Linked DNA regions of Homo sapiens. The protein of the gene in region 2 interacts with the protein of the main gene of each other region in a pairwise test. Each region holds a gene or a part of one and is shown on either strand. Other genes may lie near its edges.

Evidence for each region.
Region 1: the proteins of AMPD3 (region 2) and KCNIP1 interact in binary tests that used the Homo sapiens proteins (3 or more experiments, as listed by UniProt).

Annotation. Positions count from the first base shown.
Region 1 is NC_000005.10:170,714,266-170,726,725, reverse strand, and holds part of KCNIP1 (A-type potassium channel modulatory protein KCNIP1), read right to left. Parts: intron 7,969-12,460; coding exon 7,844-7,968; intron 6,406-7,843; coding exon 6,336-6,405; intron 4,969-6,335; coding exon of another isoform or gene 4,894-4,968; coding exon 4,823-4,893; intron 4,014-4,822; coding exon 3,906-4,013; intron 1-3,905. UniProt on the Homo sapiens protein: Regulatory subunit of Kv4/D (Shal)-type voltage-gated rapidly inactivating A-type potassium channels. Regulates channel density, inactivation kinetics and rate of recovery from inactivation in a calcium-dependent and isoform-specific manner.
Region 2 is NC_000011.10:10,450,649-10,460,633, reverse strand, and holds the start of AMPD3 (AMP deaminase 3), read right to left. Parts: upstream 5,371-9,985; 5' UTR 5,186-5,370; intron 4,579-5,185; exon of another isoform or gene 4,248-4,578; coding exon of another isoform or gene 4,232-4,247; intron 1-4,231. UniProt on the Homo sapiens protein: AMP deaminase plays a critical role in energy metabolism.

The DNA.
Region 1 (12,460 bases), on a different chromosome or scaffold from region 2:
GTCTCGCCATGTTGCCCAGTCTGGTCTTGAACACCTGAGCTCAAGTGATCCGCCTGCCTCAGCCTCCCAAAGTACTGGGATTATAGGCGTAAGCCACCATGCCTGACTGGAATGGGATTTCTGGGTTGTATGTTAAGTGTGTGCTGAGCTTTATCAAAGATGCCAAAATGTTTCCCAACGTGTTTGTACCATTTACATTTCTGCCAGCTATCTATGAGAGTTTCTATTGCTCCACATCTTTGCCAATGCTTGGTATTATCAGTCTTTTTAATTGTGGCCATTCTGTGCAATTGTATTTCATTATAGTTATAATTTGCATTTCTTTGAAGACCAGTGATATAGAGCAACCTTTCATGGGTTTACTGGCCATTCATATATCTTCTTTTCTTAAATATCTCATCAAATCTTTTGCCTATTTTATATGAAGTTGTTTATCTTTGTATTAAATTATAAATGTCCCTTATATATTTTGGATGCCAGTCTTTATATTGGTTTGGTATCCTGGTATCTTTATATATCTGGTATATAATTTGCAAACATTTTTTCCAAGTCCATGGCTTGCATTTCCATTTTCTTAAAGGTGTCTTCTAAAGCACAAAATTTTTAACTTTGATAAAGTCAAATTTATCTACTTTAAGAAATGATTCCTTATCCTTTCCTACTCCAAAGTTGTAAGAATGTTTCTCCTATGTATTCCTTAAGAAAACAGCTTTTGTTTTAATATTTAAGTCTATAATCCATTCCAAGTTGATGTTTATGTTTGGCATGAGGTTAAGGTTAATGTCCATTTTTGTTTCCAAATGGATATACAGCTGTGAAAACACGGTTCTTTCCCCTTTGATCTTTTTGGCATCTGTTGCATTGACATATGGGTGGGTCTATCTCTATTTTTAAAAAATATTTATTTTTTATTTTTAATTTTTGTGGGCACATAGTAGGTGTATATATTTATGGGGTACATGACAAGTTTTGATACAGGCATACAATGTGTAATAACCACATCATGAAAAATGGGTATCCATCCCTTCAAGCATTTATCCTTTGTGTTACAAACAAACCAATTACACTCTTTTAGTTAAAATGTTCAATTAAATTATTGACTACAGTCACCTTGTTGTGCTACCAAATACCAGGCCTTATTCATTCATTCTATTTTTTTTGTACCCATTGACTATCCTAACTTCCCCCACAGCCCCCCTACTATCCTTCCCAGCCTCTGGTAACCGTCCTTCTGCCCTCTATCTTCATATTGTTTTGATTTTTAGATCCAACAAATAAGAGAGAACATGGGATGTTTGTCTTTCTGTGCCTGGTTCATTTCACTTAATGTAATGACCTCCAATTCCATCCACGTTGTAGATGATTAAATCTCATTCTATTTTATGGCAGAAGTACTCCATTGTGTATAAGTACCAGATTTTCTTTATCCATTCATCTGTTGATGGACACTTAGGTTGCTTCCAAATCTTGGCTATTATGAACAGATCTGCAAAAAACATGGGAGTGCAGATATCTCTTTGATATACTGGTTTCCTTTACATGGGGTATATAGCCAGCAGTGGGATTGTTGGATCATATGGTAGCTCTACTTTTAGTTTTTTTGACTCTCTATTTTGATCCATTGATCTATATGTCTATCCTTATGCCAATTCCCTACCATCTTGACTACTGCACATTTTCATTAAGTCTTGAAGTAAGGTAGGTTTAGTCCTTCAACTTTGTTCTTTTTCAGATGTTTTGGTTATTTTAGGTTTTTTGCATTCCCATATCAACTGCTACAAAATACCTGCTGGGATTTTGATTGAGATCACACTAAATCTATAAATCAAATTTGGAGAATCCACATCTTAACTATATTGGGCCTTCCAACCCATGAGCATGATTTATCTCTGTGTTTATTTAGTTCTTTACTTTATTTCAGCAATATTTTATAGTTTTCAGTGTATGAGTCTTGCACCTGTTTTGTTGAATTTTTCTCAAAGTATTTTGTGCTTTTTGATGCTATTTTTCTTAATTTAATTTTCTGGTTGCTTGTTGGATGTAGAATTATAAATGATTTTTGTAAATAGAACTCATGTCTTCACTTTGTTAAATTCACTTATTATTTTTAGCAGTTTATTTGTAGACTCTTAGGGTTTTCTATTAATACAATTATACCATGTACAAATAAAGACAGTGTTAATTCTTCCTTTCCAGTCTATATCCCTTTGGTTTCTTTAAATATAGTGAATTATATTGATTGGTTTTTGAATGTTAAACCAACCTTGCCTTCCTAGAATAAAACTCACATAGTTGTATTGTATCATCCTTTTTATATATTGCTGAATTCAATTTGCTAATATTTAGTGAAAGCTTTTTTATCTGTGCTCACGAGGGAGACTGTTTTGTAGTTGTTTCCTTTCATAAGACCTTTTTTTCTTTGGTTTGGGTATCAGGGTACTATTGGACTTATAAAACAAGCTGGGAAATGTTCCATCCTCCTCTATTTTCTAAAATTTTTTTGTAGGATTGATATTAGAATTCACCAGTCCACCATCTGGGCCTATAATTTTATTTGGGAATGGTTTTTAACTGTGAATATAATTTCTCTAAATAATACAGAGCTAGTCAGATTTTCTGATTCTTTTTAAGTCTGTTTTTGCCTTTTGTGTCTTTCAAAAAACATGTTCATCTAAGAGCTTCCCAGGGGAATATGGATGGGCCCCTTACCCTAGCCCTCCACCATCTGACTCTGCTGACCTGTCAGGCTCATCCTGCACTAGTCTTCAGCTTCATACCTTCATCTGCAGCCATCTGAAGCCTTTCTGTTTTTGAAACACATGAAGCTCTATCTTGCCTCAAAGCCTCTCTAGTGGCTGTTCCTTCTGCCTGGAACACTTTTCCTGGCTTTTTGTATAACTGGTTCCAGTATGACGACACCTCCTTGGAGAGGCCTTTGCTAACCTTCCCTGCCAAAATATCTTCTACCTGCTGATTCCTTTTTGGCCTGTTTATTGTCCATCTCTCTATGCTGCTCCAGTGTGGGGCCTAGTCTGATTGTTCACCTCTTTACCTCCAGCACCTAGAACACCTAATAAGCCTTCAAATCTGTGTTAATTAAAAACATGACTAAATGAATGAGGAATGAAAGTTGGATAAACTCTCTGAGCTTACAGAGAGAAGCTTGCCGGGTTGAGGTGAAGATTGGTGCTGATATCTATACCTCCAGGCACCGTGCCTGGCACACAGGAGCTCAGCAAGTGGAGTGTTACAGGATGCCAATTTCCAGCTTCCACTGAGATACCAGGATACAGTGGATACCAAAGTGAGTTTTGAGATAGACCTGAGGGTATTTCACTGGCTAGAGACATGTCCTCTGAGGTTCTAAAAGTGCAAAGCAGTGAAGATTCAGAAATTATTTGTGATAATTTCTGTAAAGACAGCTGTACCTTCCATTACCCCCTTGGCGGTTGTATTAATAGGCAAAATAGTTTAAGGCCAATATGACCCAATTGTAGGTTCCTCTTCCTTAAAAATCTTTCTTTTCTATTCTAGGTGCTGCCTACAATTCCACCATTTCAACTTTTAGCTTTGACTTGTGGCTCCTAACCTTCCCAAATGCAGGTTCCCTAGGGAAGAGTAACTCTTCACACTGAAACAAGTCATTTTTATCCACTGTGTAATATCTACTGAATCTAGGTGACCCAGTGAGAATGAATCTGTTTAATCCTTTCTGGGCGCTTGGGAACAGGGCAGGGTAGGGCAATGAGGGAGGCCTTCTTTATTTTGCCAGGGACCAGCTCTGTTAGCCCCAAAGCAGAGCCTGCCTCATTCAGACAGTGCTATCCTCATGCCTGGGGCTGTTTTCTGTTGGGTTAGTTACCTTCACTGGAGCCCTCTCACACCCCTGGCCCCAGCTCACTTACCTCTTTGTTTATGTATCCGTCCTTGTTGATGTCATACAAATTAAATGTCCACCTTAGTTTCTCGTGGACAGTTCCTCTCAATAAAATCGACAGAGCGGTTACAAAGTCCTGAGAAGGGGAAAAGGCAGAGTGACATTAACCATCAAGCCATCAGACAGTGTGAAGCTGTGTCTTTGGGTCAGACTGTGATACTCTCACAGAATGGTGCCTCCTGCGTCCTCTTGTCTGCCTGGAGGATGTGGCTATGCTCTGTGAAGAGCTCCTGCCTTCAGTTCCCTACCCTGCCCCATTTTTTTGTTTTTTTTTGCAAGGTGCCCCCTTGAGGAAGAATGGAGCTCTGAGAGACACAGATCAACACAGCCAGCCCTGTTTTTGCCTTATCCATGGCTGCAGTGGTCTGTCTATCATCCCAGTGGCCGTATGGTCTAGTGGCTGAGGACGTGGACTGTAGGAACAGTCTGTATTGAGGGTCATTCTGCCTACATTCAAATCCATCCTTTATCATTTATGTGCTCTTTGACCTTGGGAAAACTACTCTATCTCTCTTTGCCTTACTCTCCTCTTCTGTAAAAAGGTAATCAATAATAAAACCCTACCCTATAGGGTTATTGTGGGAATTGGAGTAAATGAATTAATACATACAAAGCCCTAAGTACAGGGGCTGCCACTGGGAAGCAGTGTGCCCGGAAGCTCATACACTGTTGTTATTAGTCCCCTGAGTCCCTGAGTTCCTGCAGGCCAGGGAAAGTTGCTGCTGCTTTTCCCCATCTTTAGGAAATGCTTACAAATGGATAAACATGTCTTTGGTCTGACTGAGAGCTTTTGATGGTCCAGACCTTCCCCCAATGCCTTGAGATTTAGAGGGGGAGGTGATGCAGAACCAGAGGACCCCTAGAGTGGACCCCAGATGAGCGTACCTCGAACTTCACGGAGCCTGTCTGAGTGGTGTCGAAGGCATTGAAGAGGTAATGGGCATACGTGCTGGCATCTACAAGGCAGAAAAGGAGGGCAGGTGATGGGGGCAGGAATTCCACACAGGGAGAACCTTCCAAACAAGGCAGGGCTTCGACAAGAAAGAGAGGAGAGTGATGCTAGGGTGATGGAAAGGAGAAAATTATGGAGTGGGGCCCATTGACTCAACTCTTTGGGTTTGGGTGTGAAGTTAGATCTAGCAAAAAGTGAGATGAGCCCTTGCCCCTCCCTCTAGCCATCATGAGAAAACCATTCTCCTGCCTGTCTATGCATGGAGTCGTTGGTGTATGAATGGCACAGTGACTGCATGACAATGTTCTTCTGAACGGCCATGAATGCCTGGGATGAGCACTCACTCCAGAGTAGAGAGACCTGAACTTGGATGCCGCTGTACTACATAAGCTATGTGACTGTGGGCATCAAGCACGACCTCTCTGAGCTTCCCTTTCCTACCTCTCTACAATGGGATGTAGCAAGACCTATCTCTTGAAATTTTTTAAAAAGTATTTTAAACTACAGCTGTGCCTGGCATACAGTGAGAACTCAATAAACAGTGGCTCAGTGGAACTCAGCAAACTGCAATTCTGGGGCCTGCATGGGACAAAACTGCCTCCCCCACCTGATCTGGGTAGGGGCCCCACACACCAAGGAAGGCATCTGTCTGCTGCCAAAAAGGCCCATGAGAAACAGGGCCCAAGAAGTGTTTGGAATACTTGGATTTGCATTTTGTCAGGATCCAGGGAAGATGTCTTGCAGGAGACAGCTCTTGGTGACAGGATGCAAAGTGGCATGTGACACATGGAGGCCACAGGAGGAGTCACCGATGTGGTCCCAGGCCCATGGGGACACAGCTGGTTCCCACAGGAGTCGGGCAGGGCAACAGAGCAGCTGTTGTGGGCCTGGCACACTTGTAAACTGGCTTAATAAGCACAACTTTATGTTTCCTGCCTCTTTTTCAATTAGTTTATTTTTATAGTCTTCGGTATTTACTGAAGTTCTTTTACAAAATTCCAGCTTGTCTCAGCTATTTTAAGGAAAAGATTCAAAAGTGCCCTGCACAATGGTGGTGCCAGCATGGCAAAACCTGTTTCAGACCCTTATGGAATCTAATCCTGGTTTGCTACTCACCAGCTGTGCAATCTTGAGTACACTGCTTATCTTCCCCGAAACTCAGTTACTCCATCTGGGATTATAATACCTGCTTTCTAGAGCTGTTCTGAGACGTTGTGATGTTGCATTATCAGCCCTTCTTCCCCTTCCAGGGTGGGTTCATTTTCAGAGTTCTTTCCTGCTAAAGCTTTGGAGACTCCCACCTCTCACGATGAGGGAGGTGTCCTGCCCTGAGTTTGTCTCTTCCTCGAGAAGGAAGCAAATGGCAAGGAAGAGAGGACTTGGAGGAAGGGAAGGCTGCTTACCAGAGAGGGAGCTGGGCAAGATAGATTTCAAGGTCAGACTCACCTCCATGAGGGAAAAACTGAGCATAGATCTGCTTGAATGTGTCTTCGTTGACCACACCACTGGGGCACTCCTGTGGGAAGGGGAGAGAGTCAGCGGGAGGCATTTGAGGGCCAGCACTAGGAGAAGACTGGGCCCAGCCTTGGTGTCTGGGGTTCCTCATGATCCCCAGGGACAGGGACCTGTGCATTTCCACTTCTCCCAAGTAGTGCCATCTCAGGACTGGAGCTGCTTTGCAAAATGATGAGACATTGTCAGAGAATGGGCACTGTGAGGTGGAGAGATTTGGGGCTTTAAGATCAGAAAAACCTGGGTTTAAATCCTGGCTCAGCCAATACTAAGCTTTGTGACTTTGGCCAAGCCAGTCTCTGATCCTCAATATCCTTACCTGTAAAATGGGGGTAACAATAACTTCCCCAAGGGTATCTTATGAACCTATGTTAGGTGGTATTGAGTCCATGGTAGATGCCAAGCAGTGTAGATTTCTTCTCTTTTCTGGATGCTGTTCCCTCTGAGCCCAGTGCCTGCCTGGAAAACTTTCCCACAGGATCCTTCTCCAACTCGGCTGCCCACTGCTAATGCTGCCATCGAAGGAAAGAAGCCCTAATGGTAGGAAACTGGGCACTTGGCATGTGCAGTCAAGGCTAGTGTGGAAGGAAGAGGCATCCCAGCACCTGTCAGATAACTCCCAGGAGGGGCTGGAATCCCTGTGGGTCAGCAGTTTGGAGAACATTGAGGCTGTGGTCAGTTTGGAACTGACCCAGCTCAGCTCTACCTACAGACTGCACCTGGAGGGAGGGTGACCAGGTGCATGTCGCTGTAGCCCACCCCACTCCACACCACTCCAGGATTTGGGAATAAGATTGCACTCTGAGAGTTAAACTTAAAAAATAAATTAATATCCAGGATTGTATCTGAGAGCTCTCAAACTGGCCTGAGACTGCAGGAACACATTAATGTATTTAAAGTAACAACTAAACAAGGAACTCCCGTCCTCTGACTCCACTTTTGATTGTAACCTGGCTTCCATGTGGCTTCCAAGGAGAGCGGGTCCCAGCGAAGGGAGAGGAGTGTCTGTTTCCACTGTCAGTTCCATTTCCCAAGGTAAATTAATACACCGACATTCGGCTTACACATCAGTCTCGGTGAGCCTGGTTAGCATAAGTCAGCAGGGCCAAATCCCATTATTGTGGGGGCACCACCAGGTTGGAAGGTATGATTATGTTAAGGGCTAAGGCTTGACCCTGGGCCAGGGTGAATTCCTTGAGGATGTGCCACCCTGTGAAATTTCTGGGCAGTTGGCCGTTTACTGTCTCCTGAGGTTGCTCCATCCTCGCCTGGAGCCTTCCTTTCTAGCCAGGTGATCTCCCTCTCATGCCCCCTTTATAGAGCTGGCCTTCCTTGTACAGCCTCACATATGGGAAACGCCTTATGAGCTCCCTTGGCATTGGGGAGAGTGTAGCCTCACGTGGGAACCCCCCCCAGGCCTTCAGAGCGTGCACGGGTCTTACATTTTTGAAGCCTCGATAAAGGACCTGCAGCTCCCTCTTGGTGAAGTTGGTCTGGGCCTCGAGCTGCTCCAGTCCCTCGGGCCGATGGCAAACCATGGTCATCTCCAGCTCATCTTCAATCTTATCTGGAACCAGAGGAGATGGCATTGGAATGGTTGAGCTTGGGAGTCATTCTTGTTAGGTAACAATCTGGGCTGTCAAAAGAGTGGTGTCACGACCTGGGATCTAGGACTGTGGGCTGGGGTCACACTGCCAATGGCCTTCCTATCTTGAACCCCACTTCCCTGCCCTGTCAGCCTCTGCGTCAAACACCACACAGGGAGGGGGCTTCGGCGTTGGAGAGAAACATGTTCCCAGTGGAGGCAAAGGCAGAAGTGCTCAAAATAAATCCATATGAAAACATTTTCCTTGCTTTAAAAATAACTTCTTTGCATATTCAAATTGTTTCCCATGGAACCTTCTGAATATTCCAGAGACACAGGCAAGTAAGCAGAATGATAAACACCTCTAGACAGCAAAGGGAAACAAAATTATTTAAAGAAACAGTAAACTCTCACCATTGGGGCCAACTAGGAATGGATAGCATGATTTAGCAGAAAGTTCAAATTACGGCATGTTAAGTATTACTGATAAAAATCTGAATGTATTTACAGCGTATTGTTTTGTAATGTCTACTAGATAGCCTTAAATACTAGGAAAATATCTTAAATGGGAGCTACTTTGTACAAACCATTTGAAAGGCTCTAAAAACAGTTGTTGTAAGTAGTAGTTTAAGTATGTCTCCCTTATGGACTATAATGTAATATAAGATTGCATTAGTTATTTAGAAAGTGTCTGTCAATTAAAGCAAGGAATCTGCCCATCTTCCACTGAAGGATCACAAGGTCCAAGTCCGTGGAATTTTCAACGTTTTACCATCACAGAGGGGTAGGTGAGTGATTTCCTTTGGGCCCTGCCAGAATGTGTTCTATAAACTTACACCAATCAAGAATCAATTGCCATCTAACCTTCTCTGCCTGTTGTTGTCATGCAGATATTACCAAATCCATCTATTGAACAACTGTAAATCTGGGCTGGCAAGAATAGTGATGAGATGGGTGGCTGCTGGGAATATGCACAGACCATGTCTCATCCTGTGGCAACCCACAGCAAGCACAGGCTGAGTTGCCACATCAGGTGAGCAGGTGTATTAAATTGTGTGCATTTCTCTCATCAGTGTTGGTCTCATTGCACCAGATTTTCCCTGAAATTGTCACTTTCCCTTTTGAGACTTTGATCCCAATACAAAAGGAATCCATCAAATTAAGTTTGTATCTTGTACATATCCCCAAAGGTGATGGATGTTCGTGTGAGGCTCCCGTAACTTGGTAACAATTCCTAATTGCCATCTTTCTCATGTGCTGGGCAATACATATCACCTTATCCTGCTGGGACTAAGGCAGATGATTTGTTATAAATTAGATACTGTTTACGCCACAGAGACAAGTGGCCAATTTCCCCAGAATTCATAATTCTTACAGAGCCTTTAATTATGGTTGTGTTTGTAGCTAACAAGATAAGTAGCAATTATCTAAACGCTGAAGCATTTCTACGTAAATGAAAGGGCTTATTCTCAAAAAGAAAGAAAGAAAAGGAGAAAAATTCACATAAGTCTAATTCAGAATGCTTATATACATATTAATATTTTACATCTATTTTAACCCATTTTAACAGAGAAATTAATTGTTGGTTTGAATCTCCTAGCATTAGATCTAAAAGCATTTTTATTTTTAAAATGCACATCTGTTTATCTGTGCATATATTCACAAGAAACTTCCGAAGGGGCTGCAGAGGTTTTCACATCCCTCCTTTTGCCCCTTAGGAATTCCCTGGGTACGGCCCAGGTGGCTTGAGTGAAGAAAGGAGATGAAGCAAAAATCACATTAAAATGCAAATAAAGAAAATGGGAATATTGTATTTTTTGAGTAAATGAGGTATTCTTGAAGACATCCAGTACACTGTTAGATTTATCTTAGCCAGAAGCATGAAGGGTTTTTTGCAGTACACTTAATTCCTTGATCTTCCTGTGACTGAATTCCTCACAAGCTCGGGAAATTTCTTTGTGGGAGCTTGAGAGACTCTTTCCGACTCAAGAAACAGCACTTGTTTCCCATCACCTTCATAAAAAATGCACTAAGTAATTATTGAGATATCAACTATTAAACCCACTTCATTAAGGAGGAACTGGACTTTATTAATAAATGAGTTGTTTGCTGTCTGGGTAGCAGGATCAACTTCTACATCAAACAGATTCTGTAGTATCTGCATATTTGGATACTGACTGCCAAGCTTTTGTTTTGTTTTTCGTTTTCATCATTGGCTAAGTGTCAGGCTGTGGTAACATCGGTTGTGGAAGGAAATTTACTTCTTTGGGGCTCAAGATGCTGGGAAGTAGCCTGCCTGTGGATGTTAGGTAAACCAGTGGCCCTCTCTTTGTTTCTTCTTTCTTTTGCTGTATTTTATAGTAAGAATTGTAATTTAAATCACAACCCAGTATACACACATGTATATAAGTGAAATGTTAATGAAATATTTTGAAACAAAAACTCCATGAAATGATCCCATCCCTCACTAATGTGAGCTGTGCTCTGGTCTTAGTTTTAATGTATTCCTTTGTAGACTCGTGCTGGTTGTGACGCTCATGGGTCATGACTTTTGATTGAACTGCACTGATTTAACTTGTCTACAGCTGTGGCAACCTCACAGGAGTGCCCACGCTGCCGCTCTCACATCAGCTCTCCCTTCCCTTTCTTTGTATGCCTTGTGGTGCTGGCCGCTGTAGACACATTCACAGGAAACTTTACAGGTGACGGGCAGCGGTTTTCACCACCCTCCTGTTGCCACCTGGGGATTCCCTGGATGAAGCCCAGGTAGTCCCAGTAAAGGAAGGAGAATGGCCCTGTTCCCTGTGTGCAGGAGGAGAGAAGAGCGTGAACCCGTGGGGAGCCTCCTTGACAGTTCCTTCTGAGGTTTGTTCAAAGTCTGATGCCAGATGTTGCTAGTCATTACTTTGTTATAAAAAATAATGATGAGCTAGTTACTAAGTCAGACTTAAGTTTGAATGGTTGAGATAAAAATTAACTTGAGATGTAATACTATGGCAATAATGACATAACAAGAATAAATTAGAGCACCTTTTGTTTGTAAAGTACTTTTAAGCCATTCAGCGTTCTCATGCCTGTTGTTCCATAACCTTACGTGTGAAGGGAGTGAGGGGACCATTGCCCTGCGCATGTGATATTAAGAAGTGATTTTCTAACTGTGAGTGCCTCACACAGTGATGAATACCTATCACTAGGGGCAAAGAGAGATGGAATCACCAACTCTAGAGGATGCTACACAGGAAATTCTCAGATTGAATAGTAGATGATTTTGATTAAGTGATCCTTAATGTTTTGGGATCATAGACTCTTCTGAGTGTGGAATGAGGGGTTTAGACTCTCTCAGGAAAAAAAATGCACAATCACTGCACATTTGCTTATTCAGTCATGTGTCGCTTAACAACAGGGATACGCTCTGAGAAATGTGTTGTTAGGCAGTTTTGTCATCGTGTGAACATCGTGGAGTATACTCACGCAAACCTAGATGGGGTAGCCCTGCTACACACCTAGGCTGTATGGTATGGCCTTTTGCTCCTAGGCTATAAACCTGTACAGTGTGTTATTGTACTGAATACTGTAGGCAATTGTAACACAATGGTAAGTATTTTAAGTATTTGTGTGTCCAAACATACTAAATTTAGAGAAGGTACAATAAAACTAAGGTGTAAAAAATAAAAAATGGTACAACTATTAGGGCACTTACCATGAATGGAAGTTACAGGACTGGAAGTTGCTCTGGGTGAGTCAGTGAGTGATGGTGAGTGAGTGTGAAGGCCTGGGATATTACTAAACATGAGGTAGGCTTTATACATACTTTATGCTTAGGGCTATACTAAATTAATAAATTTTTTTTTCAATAAGAAATTAACCTTAGCTTACTCTAACTTTATTTTACAAACTATTTGGTTTTTTTTCAAACTTTTGGACTCTTTTGTGATAACGCTTAGCTTAAAATTCACACTGCCTAGCTGTACAAAAATATTTTTCTTTATTTTCTTATTTTATAAGCTTTTTCTCTATTTAAAAATTTTTTATTTTCATTTCTTTTCTTTTAAAACCCTTTTTTTAAAATTACAAATGAAGACACAACCACACACGTTAGCCTGAGCCCACACAGGGTCAGGAACCTCAAGAAGTCACTGGGCAATAGGAATTTTTTAGCTCTGTTATAATCTTATGGGACCACAATTGTGTATGTTGTGTTGCTGATGGAAACGTCATTATGCAGAGCATGACTGTACTTTCAGTGGGTTTCTGTATCTGTTAAACACATCCAGCCAATGCTAAGCTATTCTAGCATAGGAGATCTCTTCTAAACCTTCTCACTAACTGGCTTTGTCTGAGTCCTAAGTCGTTGAGCAATGGGTGACATATCTGGACCTAGAATCCAGCCAGTCCAGGCCCCTTTCATCATATCTGGTTTCCACATGTCCCCACAGTGGATTCTGCTTTCCTCAAGCACAAATTGCAAACTCGC
Region 2 (9,985 bases):
AGTTTGAGACCATCCTGGCCAACATGGCAAAACCACGTCTCTACTAAAAATACAAAAAAATTAGCCAGGCGTGGTGGCAGGCACCTGTAATCCCAGCTGCTCAGGAGGCTGAGGCAAGAGAATTGCTTAAACCTAGGAGGTGAAGGTTGCAATGAGCCAAGATTGAGCCACTTCACTCCAACCTGGGTAACAGAGTGGGACTCTGCCTCAAAAAAAAAAAAAAAGTATACTCTGGGGCCGGGTGTGGTGGCTCACGCCTGTAATACCAGCACTTTGGGAGGTCAAGGCAAGAGGACTGCTTGAGCCCAGAAGTTTGAGACCAGCCTGGACAACATGGCAAAACCTCATCCCTAAAAAAGATTTAAAGAATTAGCCAGGTATGGTGATGCATGCCTGTAATCCCAGCTGCTAGGGAGGCTGAGGCAGGAGGATCTCTTGAGCCAGGGAGGTTGAGGCTGCAGTGAGTTATGATCGTACTACTGCACTCCAGCCTGGGAGACAGGGTGAGACCTCGTCTCAATTTTAAAAATAAAATATATATATATATATAAAATATATATTATATATAATATATATTATATATAATATATATTTTATATATGTATACATACATATATATACTCTGCAAAGAACTTCATACTTATTAACTCAGTTAATCTTATTATTCCCACTTGACAGATGAGAAAATGAAGGCATAGAGAGCTAACATGCCCAGGGTCACACTTTTAATAAGTCAGCAGAGATTTGTGCTGTTCTCAGCCTTTCTCTCTCATCCCTTTCCTCTCTGATCCTCAGCTCAGGGATCTGAACCCAGGCACCTGGTTCCTGCCTCTGTCCCCTCACCCACCATGCTGTGCTGCTTCTCTTTGTCCACGTATGTGTCCGGGCAGGGGCTCCTCACAGTCCCCAGCATAACACTTGTGGAATGGATTAATACTGCACCCTTTTCGACAAGCCACCCTCGTTGGGAGCAGCTCTGGAAGAGGAGTTTCCCATCTACCTATGACCACAGTTTCTTTAAAGTTGGTTTAAAGAGAGAAGTGGTTTTGTGGACCAGACAGACAAGAATGGAGATGAGACAGAGCCCTGCTGCTGTCCAGCAGGGAGAAGTGCAGCTACAGGGGAGGGGAACACACTAGGCCATCTTGGGACAGTCATTCTCCGGCCTCACAATGTTCTCATCTGTGAGATAAAGGGATTGAACTAAGTGGTCTCTAAGGCCCTCTCAGCTCTAAGTGGCATAATTCTAGGTACCAGAGAGATTTCCGGTGCCTGAGGAGGGCTTGCTGCTCTGAGTCTGAGTGGCATGTGGGACTAAGTCATGACACAGACAGGAAGGAAGAAAGCAGGCTAGCAACAGGCAATCAGAGTGAGGTCTGTGGCTCCCTTAACTCTGAGACCCAAGGACCTGCCACTCCCTGATGAGAGGAGTGGGAGGGAGCTGGTGGGGAACAGCCTGTCAACACACAACTGTCTGGGGAGCAGACATCAAGACAGCGAGGCCTGGCCTCTGCAAAAAGGAAGAGGAACAGAGCTGCCTGTGGGGATTTCCATGTCTTGATAGCAGAGAGGGGGGAAGCTGGAGGCCATCAAAGGAGGTGACAGGGGAGAGAAAGTCTGGAACAGCACAAAGAACCAGACCCAGGAGGCTCCATCAGGCTGAAACGAAACTGGATCCTCACCTCCCCCCTTATTCCAAGGCCACCAATCAAGGGCACCATCCCAAAACCTCACATCGCATCTCAGAAGAAGATATGCAACCCAACAGCCCAGGCAAAAGGCCGCAAATGCCATAAAGCACCATACCATTTGACTAAGCAACTTTACTTCTACAAATTTCTTTCAAAAAAAGAATCCTAAGAATGAAAAGCACAAGGATATTTACCTGCATTATTTACATAAATAGCTTTAAAATGCCTAAATTAGAGCATACTCACTTGAAAAAGATGTTAAGTAATCAGAATTATGATTATGAGGATGGTGCAATCACATAAAAAAATAAAAATACAGTAAATGAAAAAATTAATACATAGAACCATACCCATGCTTTATTTACAGTGAAAGGAAAATGCATCCCTTTATGGGCAAGACCTGCAAGAGATTCACGCAGTCAAAATGACCAGGTGGCAGGGCTGCCTGTGTGTGAGAGGATATTTTATTTTGATGATGAATGCTATTATAATGCCATTTTTAACAAATACAAAGAGAATAGAAAGAAAATGAGTAGACTTAAGACTCTATGAAAAGAGAGAAAAATAGGAAAACAAACTTCTTTTTCTGGCAGGTTTTGGCAATTAGGGCTCCCTCCTTAATTGCCGAAGGGAGGGAGGGAGGGAGCATCACCATACCTGGCTAATTTTTTTTTTTTTTTTTTTTTTTAGAGATGAGGTTTTGCCATGTTGTCCAGGCAATTTGGGAGGCTGAGGAGGAAGGATCACTTGAGGCTAAGAGTTCAAGATCAGCCTAACCCACACTATTGAGAGGCCAGGCCAAAGGGAGTTTCACCATTCAGACCTATCTCTGTGTTAGCTCCTACCCTGGACAGAAGCCATCCACCACCAGCAGCACCTTCCTACCTCCTTCATGCCCTCAGACACACACAGGCCTGACCCAGACACCCCCAACCAGGCTCCCTTGGCAATGGGTATTTGGGTGGGAGGGAAGTCCTTGATGTCTGAGGGCTCTTATGCCAGATCCTGCCATGTTTGCTCATGAAGCATGCATTTATTCATTGATTGATTGAGAGACAGGGTCTCAGTTGCCCAGGCTGGAGTGCAGTGGCACAATCACAGCTTACTGCAGCCTCGACCTCACAGGCTCCGGTGATTCTCCCACCTCAGCCTCCCGAGTAGCTGGGACCACAGGCACACACCACTATGCCTGGCTAATTTTTGTATTTTTAGTAGAGATGGGGTTTCACCATGTTGGCCAGGCTGGTCTTGAACTCCTGGTCTCAAGTGATCCGCCTGCCTTGGCCTCCCAGGGTCTAGGATTATAGGTGTGAGCCATCATACCAGCGCACAAAGCATTTTTAGCTTGCTCTAATCAACTAAAAATACTTTTCAGGACACAGCTTTCTATAACATATCTTCCTTTCTCTTTAGCTTAAATCAACCTTTCCCAAACTGGATGCCATAAGAAATTGATACCTGTTGCTGGTAAAACAGGTCCTGTGGTCAGTTATTGGGAGATGTTGCATTCCACAGCCCCTCAACTCACATTCATAAGGCTCATTAAAATCAAGGATCATAGAGTAACATTAACATACAGAACCCTTTTTGTTTTACAGAACCCATAAAAATCTTCCGCAGAACTACTACCAGTGTCTTAAATAGTTGGTAGATAATTCATTCCAAGACCGGGTGCAGTGGCTCATGCCTATAATCCAAGCAATTTGGGAGGCTGAAGAGGATCGCTTGAGGCCAGGAGTTCGAGATCAGCCTGGTGCAATATGTCAGAACCTCATCTCTACAAAAAATAGAAAAAAAAACAGCCAGGTGTGGTGGCATGCACCTGTGGTCTCAGCTATTTGGAAGGCTGAGTTGGGAGAATTGCTCGAGTCCTGGAGGTGCAGGCTGCAGTGAGCCATGATGGCACCACCGTACTCCAGCCTGGGTGACAGAGCAAGACCTTCTCTCAAAAAAAAAAAAAAAAAAGCAAGAAACAACAGCAACCACAACAAAATAATTAATTCCATATCTTAGTATGGACCAAGTAACCCACTTGGGGTGCTGCAGGCCTTAGCAGCTGCCCCCACATCTGCTGCCTTCTGGATGTCCTTGGCAGACAGCTCCCACCTGCCAACCCGTCCCTCCAGAGTGTCTCTCCTCTCAGACCCTCCAGACACCTGCCAGGCCAGGCCTGACAAGGAAAGCTCACTCTGCAGATGCCAAGCAGAGCTTCAGCTCCAGCTGCATGTTCACGCCTGGCTTCCAACCCTTTGTCAGCTGAAGCCAGCAGGCTTGGGAGGCTTAGCTGTGAATTCACCAGCATCAGTCAGCCAATGATACAGCTTATCTCACTGTTACATGCAACACGCTCTGATGAACTTGAAGAAGTGTCCCAAAGTTAGAAAGTTCTAAAACACTGCCAGTTTCAACAAACAGTAACTTTTCATGGTGCCACAGTCCCTCCAGAAAGGAAGCCCAGTGCCACTGAAATCCCCTCGTTATACGAAGGAAGCTGGTTCCTACTCTTGCCAGACTCCCCTTGCAGAAGCCCCGACACAGACCTGAGCCTGGCTCCATGACTGGTCCTGAAGATGCCACTCAAGTGATGCACCCGGGTGAGGTGCTGCCTGCCACCCAGGAGGCTCAGCTGAGTCAGTGCGTGCGTGCAGCTGGCTGGGTCCTGTCTGCCGGCTGGAGTAGGAGGTCTCTGTTTTGCATATCTGTGAGCAGCAGTGAGCCAGAGCAGGAAAAGCCTGGGCTGGAAATTCTCTCGTGAATATGAAATATGAGTGGAAAATTTCCAAGAGCCCTGAAGTCCCCAGGTAATCCCAGTTATCCAAAACAAAATGGCTGTGGTATCCTGAATGCAGTGTCCTGGCCCTCTTCACAGCCCTCACAAGAGGAAACTAAAGCGGCGGCTTCCTCTTTACAACAGTAAACTCAGCCGTCCTGCCCAGCTGCAGGAGATAAGCCACAGCCTCCCTCTAACGCCCAGCCTCCTCCTGAAAGCTGAGTAGCAACGAGCGATATCATCACCTTTGCTGCTTCCGTTCTGAACGTGCTTCAGGCCTGGCTGCATTTTATCAAGGGGATTGGTCTCAGGTACAGCCCGACCTGCCTCTTCTCAGAAAGCCCCCCTAAAGCAGCCCTCCCAAGGGCACCCCATAACTGCCAGGGGGAGCTTCAATCCCAGTTGCTAATACAATCCCCTCCATCCCCTCCTCCTCTGAAAGGGAAAGACCATGAACTGCTTCCACCTTTCCCAGGAAAGGACAGAGACTCAGGGAGCAGGAACTGCCTCAGCACAGAGGCGGACAGAGGACAGGGGCAGGCTAGGATGAAAAGCTGACAGCCCCATCCCACTCCTTCCTTTCTTCCCAGAAGGAAGCCCACATCACAGGTGACTGCGAAGCCTGATAAGCTTTACCAGAACCCCCACCCCCATCCACACACACAGAAAAGGAGTACACCCCAACTGACCCACCGGAGCCCACCCCAAACCCTCCCCTGCTTACAGCCGCTCACTGCTCCCACGTGGGCCTCCAGCTCCGAGCGCTGGCTGGACTCTGCCACTCCTCCTGGGGAAGGTGGAGCCTGCCTCAAGTGACCCACAGGAGCAATCCTCTAAAACCAAGCAGGGTTGATTAAAATGGCATCACAGGGTGCAAAGCTCTGATCTTCATCTGCCCTTTAGGAGAGTGGGAAGGCTCAGAACAGACACATAGCCTCCCAGTGACTTAGGCAAATCCTGTGGTCCTGGGAAATAACCATGAGCAAAATGGCTATTTCTGTGGTGCTGTTGAAATCCTGGGGAGAAGAGCTCAGGAAGGATGGGTCAGTTGTTTACCGGGAGGCTAGCTGTAACCCTGACTTGGGCCTGAGTCACCTCCGCATGTCCAATCGTGAGGTTGTGTCTTACTGAGCTCACATCATAATTCCTGTGTGCACAGAGCAGTATTACAGGGTTGACACATGATCCTCGGGCTGCTGCTGGGCTTTAGCTACCCAGAGATTACGGCCCACCTGTCCTCACAGCTGTTTCATAAACAGTGCAACCAGCAGGCTACAAGCAACCTAGAGGGAGGGTAATATTTATTCATTAAACAATTAAATGAACTTACAGTATGAGAAAAAAATCCAAGCCCTTAGTACTATTCTGCCAGAAGGAGGAGGGGCAGATGACTTTTTCTGCTAGTGTTTTGGGGAAAGGGGAGGTAGAGTGGGGACTGCAGTGGGAGGATTCCAGCCCAAGGATTTAAGTCCGACACGTTCAGGGAATTTTATTCTGCACCTTTAACCGGATCCCAGCTAGCCTTAGTCTAAACAAGCATTTTTCAAAGTGCAGTCTGCAGAACATGAAAGGTCAGAAGGCTTGGAAAACACTGCATCCTGTAGTCCCTTATGGGTATTCATGCACAGTTTCTACTAGCAAATTCAACACCTGAGAAGTCCTGCAGTAAAGAAAGCTGCTTAACTTTGTTTAACCCGACGCACTTATTTGACCATCCTAGAACTGCTGTCATAGGAAAAAAACACCTATTAATATCTTGTGGTATCGGCTTTGGGAAACACCCTCCACCTTGAGTCTTCATTTTCCAACTTAGAGAAAGCTGCCTTCCTGGAGCCCAGTTTACAGGTATGAGACCCATTGCATCGGGTTCAGACAGAAACCAGCAGCAGCTCCACTAAGATGACACAGGTTGTAACAATGACCAAGGGTCCTGCTGAAGCCAAAAGGCGGGAAGACTCCCCAGAACATGGGCAGTTTAGAAGAAAAATACAGTTCTGTCCCAGAAGAGCAAGCTCTTCTCAGGACCTCACAATTCCACCTTGAGCCTAACTTGTTGCTGCTTCTTGCAGCCAAGATGTCTCTGTGGACTGAAGAGCACTGATCCCAAGCTCAAAGCCTTATTTCCCTTTCGAACAAACATCAAGACAATTTATGATAACCAGATACAGGGCCCGCTTCTCCTGCCCGAGACTAGACTGCATCCCCTTTTATCACTTAAGCACCCCTTACAAACTCTAAAAGACAGGAGAGGACGGAATCAAATTATGTCTCATCAAGAAAGATATCGGCCGGGCATGGTGGCTCATGCCTGTAATCCCAGCACTTTGGGAGCCCGAGGCAGGTGGATCACAAGGTCAGGAGATTGAGACCATCCTAGCCAACGTGGTGAAACCCCATCTCTACTAAAACACAAAAAATTAGCTGGGCATGGTGGTGCGCACCTGTAGTCCCACCTACTTGAGAGGCTGAGGCAGGGGAATCACTTGAACCCAGGAGGCAGAAGTTGCAGTGAGCTGACATTGCACCACTGCACTGCACTCCAGCCTGGCGACAGAGCAAGACTTTATCTCAAGAAAAAAAAAAAGAAAAAGAAAAAGAAAGATATCACTCTCCTCCCCAAAAGCCAGGCATGAGCTTGCATAGAGGGGTTCATTTTTCTTCTCATTTGTGAGGTGTGTGTGACTCACACAAGGAGTTGGACAAAGGGGATTCACTTGCTAAATACCAGCTCCATGACAAATCTCGCCTGTCTCATTCACAGTTGTATCCCCATACCTGAAATATGGTCGACATTCAGCAAGTATTTGTTGAATGAATGAATGCATAAAACAATGAACAAGTGAACTAGCTATTTATAATAGATCAATCCACCTATGGCAATCTCAGGAATGAGTAGAGTGTATGGCTAAAAACGTAGACTCAGGCTGAGTGTGGTGGCTCACGCCTGTAATCCCAGCGCTTTGGGAGGCCGAGGCGGCCAGACCACTTGAGGTCAGGAGTTTTGAGACCAGCCTGGCCAACATGGGGAAACCCCATCTCTACTAAAAACACAAAAATTAGCCTGGCATGGTAGCGGGCGCCTGTAATCCCAGCTACTTGGGAAGCTGAGGCAGGAGAATCGCTTGAACCCGGGAGGTGGAGGTTGCAGTGAGCTGAGATTGTGCCACTGCACTCCAGCCTGGGTGACAGAGTGAGACTCCATTTCAAACAAACAAACAACAACAAAAAAAACTCCAGCTAGACTCCCTGCATTTGAATCCTGTTCCACCACTTAGTTGTATGACCTTGGGCAAGTTAAATAACTTTTCTGTGGCTCGGTTTTATTCCCTATGAAGTGTGGATAATAAAAAGCCAATCTCATAGGTTGCCATGACAATGAGCATAAGTGAAGTGTTTAGACTGGTACCTGGCATAGAGTATGTGTTTTATAAGCATTATCTGCCAACATCATTGTCATCATCATTATGATATCAGATACGAGAGAGAAGAACTAGGAAAATGAACATGAAGTTTTATCTAGACACTGAATCCTTTTATTCAACCTTATTTATTGAGCACCACCATGTGCCTGGCACTCTCCCAAGTTTCTATTACCTGGGTGCAGGAAGAAGGAAAACATATTTAAATGTGAAGCCAGATCAGGAGGAGGAACATCCTTCTCCCCTATGAATGGTACTTCTCGGTGACTGTACACAGCCAGGACTCCAGCCATGAGCTCATCCTCCCATGCCCCAGTCAGTTCCTTACAAATCAAAAGCCCAAAGCAATTGTCTGTTGTCCTAGATATGCAACCAGCATACAGAAGAACTAAGAGATTATTATACTTGGTGGAAGAATCATGGAGGCCAATGGGCAGCTTTAGGGGAGAAAGGGTATCTCCCTGTTAACCCGAAGGCTACATGTTATCTGCCCATGACATTTTCAAGACCTGAGACAGATTTTGAGGCCATTTGAAGAGTGATCCAGTCAGTGTAGAGGCAAAAAAAAACAACTACAAAAAACCTCATCTCTCAAAGAGCTTCTTGACCTAGCTGAGAGCTAGGAGAACCTTAGAAGACAGAGGCTGAGCTAAGGATGGGACTGAGAGGTCAAAGAGTCTCCCAGCCACCACCTATGCAGGTGTCATTATTCCTAGAGAGGGCAGCCCCATACCATCATCCTCAGAGCAAGCCAGGCCCCATGAAGCTGCAGCCAGGCCAGGCCAACTACCCCAGACCTGCTGTCAACACTCCTAGAGGTGTGAAGTGACAGAGGCTCTGTCTGTCTGGCTCAATGGCTCCACTAACACTCGGCCTTAGTGCTGCACAGCCAGGGAAAGAATTTCTCCTCTGCAGGTTCCAGCTGCAGGCAGCTTTTCCATGAAGATGGCCAAATGTTGGTCACTGCATCCTGAGGGAAAGCCAACAGGGGCTCAAGACCATGCTAAAATCCCTCCTTGTGCTGCCTGCTTTCACCCAGCTCCTTTGCTGATGTGTCGCCATCAAGCTTTCAGCCACATACAGTTTGGGGAAATGATACCCTAGTTAGCAAGCCTCTCCTACTCCAAGGCCTCTCAAAACTCTCCCCAGGGACCTCTGCCAGCCTACAACAGCCATTAGCAGCTCTGCTGGCAAAGCAGCTACCAGAAGATCAAGGGCAGAAAGCAGACTGCCAGAGCCCAAGGCTGTACACCTCCCTTGCCGGGAGAGAGCCAAAGAGGTAAGGATGAAGGCCTCAAACGACCTCATCACCCTATCATCCAGTGCATCCCTCGCCTCCAGGTAGAAGTCCACCTCAGCTGTCCACATCCAGCCAGTCCTCAAGCACCTAGGAACTTTGCCCAGGGTGGCAAGTCCCAGGTCCCTTAATTTCTCTAAACCTTGCGATTCCATTCTAGGCCGCCAGGGAATCGGGATGCTGCCCGCTCACCTGAGGCCGCTGGGGCTCGGGCCACCGCAGAGGCAGGGGTAGGGACAGGGACAGGAACAGGGGACAGGGCAAGGGATCGGACCGGAGTCAGCGCCACCGCCTCTGCGAGCAGGGAAGGCGGAAGCCGCGGTTCAGACCCCAGGGCGCTGCTGATTCCCGCCTGGGCCGCAGGGTCCGCGGGGCTGGCCCAAGGTCAGCAGCGCAGCCTCGCGCGCACTCACCGGGTTCGGACGACAGGGCCATGCCGCCGGCCGAAAGGGACGGCCGCAGGGCTGGAGCAAAGGGGACGCGCTGGGCAGAGCGGAGCGGGGCTGCTGGGCACTGAGGCCAGCCGGGGCCAGGGCCCGGCCAGGCCGCGCCCCGCAGCAGGCGCGGGGGCCGGGCGTTCAGAGGGCGCAGCGCTGCGGATCCCCGGCCAGGAGGGCCCCGCGGGAGGAGGGAGGGCCGCCTCAGCAGGGAGGAAGCCGGCCAGCCGCGTGCAGCCCCCGTCGGTGCCCTACCTGGGCGCGGAGCGGAGCAGAGAGAGCCGAGAGGCTACCTGAAGCGCCCGGGCCGCGCCGCCAACGGGAAACTTGAGAGCAGCAGGGGCGCGGCGGCCGCCAGGGCCCTTGGCCGG